Linked DNA regions of Homo sapiens: region 1 is linked to region 2. Evidence: fine-mapped expression QTL. A gene starts in region 2. The other region holds a variant in brackets. All regions are shown on one strand. Distances are between the middles of the regions.

Evidence for each region.
Region 1: its variant is fine-mapped to the expression of HOPX in tibial artery (GTEx, PIP 0.92).

Annotation. Positions count from the first base shown.
Region 1 is chr4:56,728,970-56,731,884 of GRCh38, forward strand. No RefSeq gene overlaps it. Among named protein-coding and RNA genes, the nearest start is that of CHAER1, 26 kb to the left of the region's middle. The variant G/A (reference allele first, on the strand shown) is at 1,275.
Region 2 is chr4:56,679,908-56,682,822 of GRCh38, forward strand. HOPX (HOP homeobox) reads right to left here and starts at 1,389. Exons shown (of 4, transcript NM_032495.6): 1 at 1,348-1,389. RefSeq lists a silencer at 1,387-1,436.

The DNA.
Region 1 (2,915 bases), 49 kb after region 2:
CCACCTCCCAGGTTCAAGCGATTCTCCTGCCTCAGCCTCCTGAGTAGCTGAGATTACAGGCGCGTGCCACCACGCCCGGCTAGTTTTTGTATTTTTAGTAGAGACGGTGTTTCACCATATTGGTCTGGCTGGTCTCAAACTCCTGACCTCGTGATCCACCTGCCCAGCCTCCCAAAGTGCTGGGATTACAGGCGTGAGCCACCACGCCTGGCCGGGATGCTCTTTCTATAGTGGCTCTCTCCCACAAGCCCTCCCCTACTTCCACCCTGATGTCCTGGAGCTGAACCTCTGCCCTTAATCCAACTCCCAAGTTCTTACTTTGGTACATGGTTGTATTAGTTATCTATTGCTGTGTAAAAAATTACTTCTAAACATAATGGTTTAAAACAGCACGTATTTATTATTGCAGTTTCTGGGGTCAGGAATCTGGACAGGATCCCTTAGCTGGGATCTCTGTTTCAGGATGTCTCACAAGGCTGCCATCAAATTTTCAACTGAGTCAGGATCCATTTGCAACTCACTCAGTGGTTCCTCAGGGGTTACTGAACCGAAGGCCTCAATTCCTTTTAAGCTGTTGGCCACAGCCTGGCCTCAGTACCTAACCATAGGGGCTTCTCCAGCATGGCAGCTTGCCTCATCAAAGCTAGCAAGAGGCTAGGCATGGCAGTTCACACCTGTAACGCCAGCCCTTTGCGGGACTGAGATAGAAGGATCACTTGAGCCAAGGAATTCAAGAACAACCTGGATAACACAGCAAGCCCTCATCTCTACAAAATTTAAGAATTTTAGCTGGGCATGATGGCACAAGTGCATGTGGTCCCAGCTACTTGGGAGGCTGAGGTAGGAGGACGACTTGAGCCCAGAAGGACAAGGCTGCAGTGAGCCATGATGGCACCAGTGCACTCCAGCCTGGGCAACAGAGCGAGACACTGTTAAAAAAAAAAAAATCTAGCAAGAGACTCGAAGAGAGTTTGCGAGCAAGAGTGAAGTCACAACCTTTTGTAACCAAATCAAGAAAGTGAGACCAGGCGCAGTGGCTCACACCTATAATCCTAGCACTTTGGGAGGCCCAGGCAGGTGGATTGCCTGAGCTCAGGAGTTCAAGACCAGCGTGGGCAACACAGTGAAAACCCATCTCTACTAAAATACAAAAAACTAGTAGGGCATGGCGGCGTGTGCCTGTAGTCCCAGCTACTCAGAGGCAGGAGAATTGCTTGAACTCGGGAAGCAGAGGTTGCAGTGAGGTGAGATCATGCCACTGCACTCCAGCCTGA[G/A]TGGTCCCCAATGAGCCCCGCCTCCAGGCACTCACCCCTGTGTGATTTGCTCACTGTGAATGTGGGCTGCACCTGGTGACTTATCTGTAACTCATAGAATATGACAATGATGACCAGATGTCACTTTTTTTTTTTTTGAGGTAGAGTCTCACTCTGCCACTCAGGCTGGAGTACAGTGGAGCAATCTTGGCTCACTGCAACCTCCGCCTCCTGGGTTCAAGTGATGCTAATGCCTCAGCCTCCTCCCAAGTAGCTGGGGTTACAGGCATGTGCCACCACGCCCAGCTAATTTTTATATTTTTAGTAAAGACAGGGCTTTACCATATTGGCCAGGTTGGTCTCGAACTCCTGGTCTCAAGTGATCTGCCCACCTCAGCCTCCCAAAGTGCTGGGATTACAGGCATGAACCACCGTGCCCAGCCCAAACTTTCCCTAAACTTAAGATTTGCTCTGCTGAAGATAATTCTTCTGACAGTTGTCTTCACCACCTTGGTTGAACCAAGACAGAAAAATCTCATAACCTTAGATGTCCCTGTACTAATAATAGCTAATGCTTCTATAGCGCCAATTACATGCCAGGCTTTGCATGAGCTTTCTATGAACTTTACAAATAGTAACTCATTTAATCCTCATAACAATTTTCCGAAGTAGAGGCTCTCATTAACTTATTTTACAGACAAAGCAACTGAGCCACAGAGAAGCAAGTACTATATCTTGCCAAAGGTAACACAGCTATTGAGTGGTGGAAGTAGGATTTGGGAGCTGGGAGTTTGGTTCCAGAATTCCTGATGTGAACCATTATGCTATTCAATAACCCACATATAAGCTGGAATACAATACTGTCCAGTCTGGCACACTGTGACATTAAAATAAAACATTAAAAACATAGGCCAGGCAGGGTGGCTCAAGCCTGTAATCTCAGCACTTTGGGAGGCCGAGGTGGGCGGATCATGAGGTCAAGAGATCGAGACCATCCTGGCTAACACGGTGAAACCCCGTCTCTATTAAAAGTACAAAAAATTAGCCGGGCGTGGTGGCAGGCGCCTGTAGTCCTATCTGCTCGGGAGGCTGAGGCAGGAGAATGGCGTGAACCCAGGAGGCGGAGCTTGCAGTGAGCTGAGATCGCGCCACTGCACTCCAGCCTGGGCGACAGAGTGAGACTCCGTCTCAAAAAAACAAAAACAAACAAACAAAAAAAAACATAGCTAAGCAACCAAAACAAAATTCCAACATTTAATTGGCATTAAAAAAGATTTAACCTATAACCTACAGCAGCACATTTTGGTTCTCAGAGCCCTTCATTTGGTAGCTTTCCTCTACGAATGTTCCCTGAAACCCAGCCCAGATTATTTTTTATTTTCTTTTTTCCATACTTCTCTCTTAGCTCCTTATGATATAAATTGACTTTGTCTTCTGGCTTCATTCTTTAGTATCCTGTTCATGTAGCCCCTTTTTATACACAAAAGGGTGATCCTAGAATTGACCCAAGCCACCAGGAATTTTACCCCTTGTCCTCCTAACTCTCAAGTCTGCCTTCTCTATGTCTATTTCTGTATCATAAGAAAAACAGAGAACCAGCAAAGACAGAATTCTCTTTGGAGAGTAGGGAAGAGGGAGAAGCTGAGCAAATTAGGAGAACTT
Region 2 (2,915 bases):
GAGAACAAGATCCATTTTTTCTTTTCTCTTCCTCTTGGCCTTCAACTTATCTTTTCTCAGATATAGCCCTTAATCATTATTTGCTTGATTGACATAAGACCTTCATGAACTTAAAACCAAGCTTCAGTTTGGTGGCTAAGAAGTGCCTGCCACGTTGAAGGTTTTTAACTCGCCACCACTTCTGGAGAGGTTCCTCAGTCGGCAGCTTCAGCCCAGTTAAAAAAAAATAATAATAAGCATATGAGCTTCATTTAGGTCCGTGGACTTCTAGGAGTCCAGAAAGTGAGAGTCAAGGTGTGGGTTGGGGTGTGGGGTGGAAGGGGAGGCTCAGGAAGCGAGGAATGAATACCTGAGAAAGGTCCTTGGCTTTCACCAGATTCTTGATACAAAGGGATAGACTATGGAATTAATGCCCTGCTCTATTCCTATCTGCTTTTCATGAATCTGTTGTTTAATTATAAATCCTTTACTATCTGCTCCTCCCTTCTCCTCCCTTCCCACCTCCCCAGCACCTTCGTTTTGTTCTCTGCCTGCCCTGGTTATACTTAACCTTACTTAACTAAACACACTACAGGGCCCTGTCCAGTAGCAGTGCCACTTCATGGGAACTGTTTGCATTCCTTTTCTCTTTAAGAGCTTCTTATCTGAACTATGTGATAGATTGTACCTTTTTATTCAATGATTCTTATTCCACTTTACTTAACAGTTTACCCTGAATACTTGGATGCCACTCACATATCACAAACCTATACTTTCTCTAAACCCCAGAGCCTGGGATTCCTTTTCATCTCAAAAAAAAAAAATCACTGTTTTTGTTGTTATAAATAAGTATTATGAGAACCAGAAGTAACAATAAACTGCAAATTCAAAATCAAGCCACTTCTCCATCCAGAGACAGCTCCCTCACTTCCCCTTGTCAAACACAAAACATATTTTAAAACGATATTATGTCTGATTTTAGATAAAAGTCTGGGATGTAGAATAACAATAATCTGCTTCTAAATGAGAAAATCATAGGCATCTGACAAATGCTGGTTTCAAAGTTATCTTTCCAAAATAGAAGCGAGTAAGAAAAACATCTCACCTGCTTGGCCAAAAGACCAACACCAACTCCCCTTCCTCCAAATTCCCCTCGACCCCATGCAGTTTTGTTTGTAAGGGACTGATGTCTTACACCCAGCAGCATTTCCTAGCTTCTGCTTGGGGGTAAGCTTGTCATTCCTATTCTCCCTTTCACCTCTACCGTTTTCCAACAGATGAGCAAATACGGTAACGATAGCATTTTGGTCTAGTTCCTGCACAAACTCATTCCTCTGCATAAAAGGCAGACCTTTGAAAGGTACTTACGTGGAAGAGGCAAAGGCAAGCGCAAGCCCTGGGTTTGGAAGCTGTGTTTGCTGATGCCAGCCTGCTTAAATAGCTGGGCTGGCTGACGCAGGCTGCTGATAGCACGTTTATTTACGCCTATGAGCACACACTCGAGCAAGGACCTGAAAAACCTGCAGCGTGGGCAGGAGGTAAACCACTGAAAGTATGCCGAGGTTACGTCTCTCCTGGTTATTCAGGTTTGATGTTCAGGCTGGGACTTCTGAGAGTCTCATGGAACTTTCTCGTCACTATCTTCTCGTCCCTGACCTCTCTCCTAGCCAAGCAAGCTTCTTCACCAAGATAGGATAAGAGAGATGTGGCTGAGAGAAGACGGGGAAGAGAAAAGGGACCCTGAGTCTTCTCATCCACTTCCTTACTTTGAGCGAGTTTCCAGTTAGATGTTGCCTCATTTCAAAGCGTAGATCTGGTGCGGTTGATTTCACAGCTCTGAGAGCTGGATGCCAAGCTAAGAGCCTGGACAATTGCCCAATTAATGAAAGGTTGTTTTCTTTTGGGCACAGAATGTACACATAAAGAACAGTTAAAAGGGAGAGATTCGGGCTAGGATGATACAGTTTTAGGTCTCCCTCAAAAACGATTCTCATTTATTTCCCCTGCATCTGTACTTTCCTCTTACCATCCCCTCCCCTTCGTTAATGAAATTCCTGTCTAAGAGGTGAAAGATTCCCCATGGGCTTGCGAATAAAAAGCCAGTGTGTGAGCAAGTCTGTGGGAAGATGCATGCAGAGTGTGACAGAGAGTTTAGGGGCTCGTGTGACAATCCGTGGAAATGTTTCTAAAGGCGAGGGTATGTGTGTGGGTGTGAGGACCCGGCTGTTGGATGTTTACGTATTTTATTAGCTAGATACGGGAGCTAATACTCAATTGCAGTGCACTAAACATTATTAGGTGGGTATGATTTTGAGGGAATGAGGGAAGGGAGACAAGGTCTGGTGAGATCATCTGTGGGATTATCTGTGTGTATTTGCTGGTTTGTAGCACAAACCGGTAAGTGCCATCCAGAGAGCCACACCCTATATTATTCACTTCAGCAGAGAAAGAGAAAGCCCACTTGAGTCTCTTGGGAACAGTAGCCATATGTGAAAGAAGAGCAGCGCTCATTCAGAATACCTCTTTCCCTCTTGGAAAAGGGGGTGACGGTTATAAAACATGTGTGGGAAAGAGTAGAGACAGGGGGCCCAGGTTAACCCAACCTTGGTTACCAGAGGAATTCTTTTGTTTCCTGCCTAATTCAATGCCTAACTTCTGACCATTCTATGGCCAAATCTGGATTCTTGCTGCCACGATTTTTTGAATGGGCAGGGTCTATGTCTTGTTTATCATTTGATACCCACAGCATTATTATTATTATTGTTGTTGCACAAATTATTACTATGACAGCACAAATTATTATGATGATGACAATGGTGATGATCCATAATCTAGTAAGACTGACTGTGTGTCAGGCTCCATGTAAGGACTGTACAGAGAGTTTGTCTGCTTATTTAATATGTAATACAATAACCCTATGAGGTTGTATTGTTTTT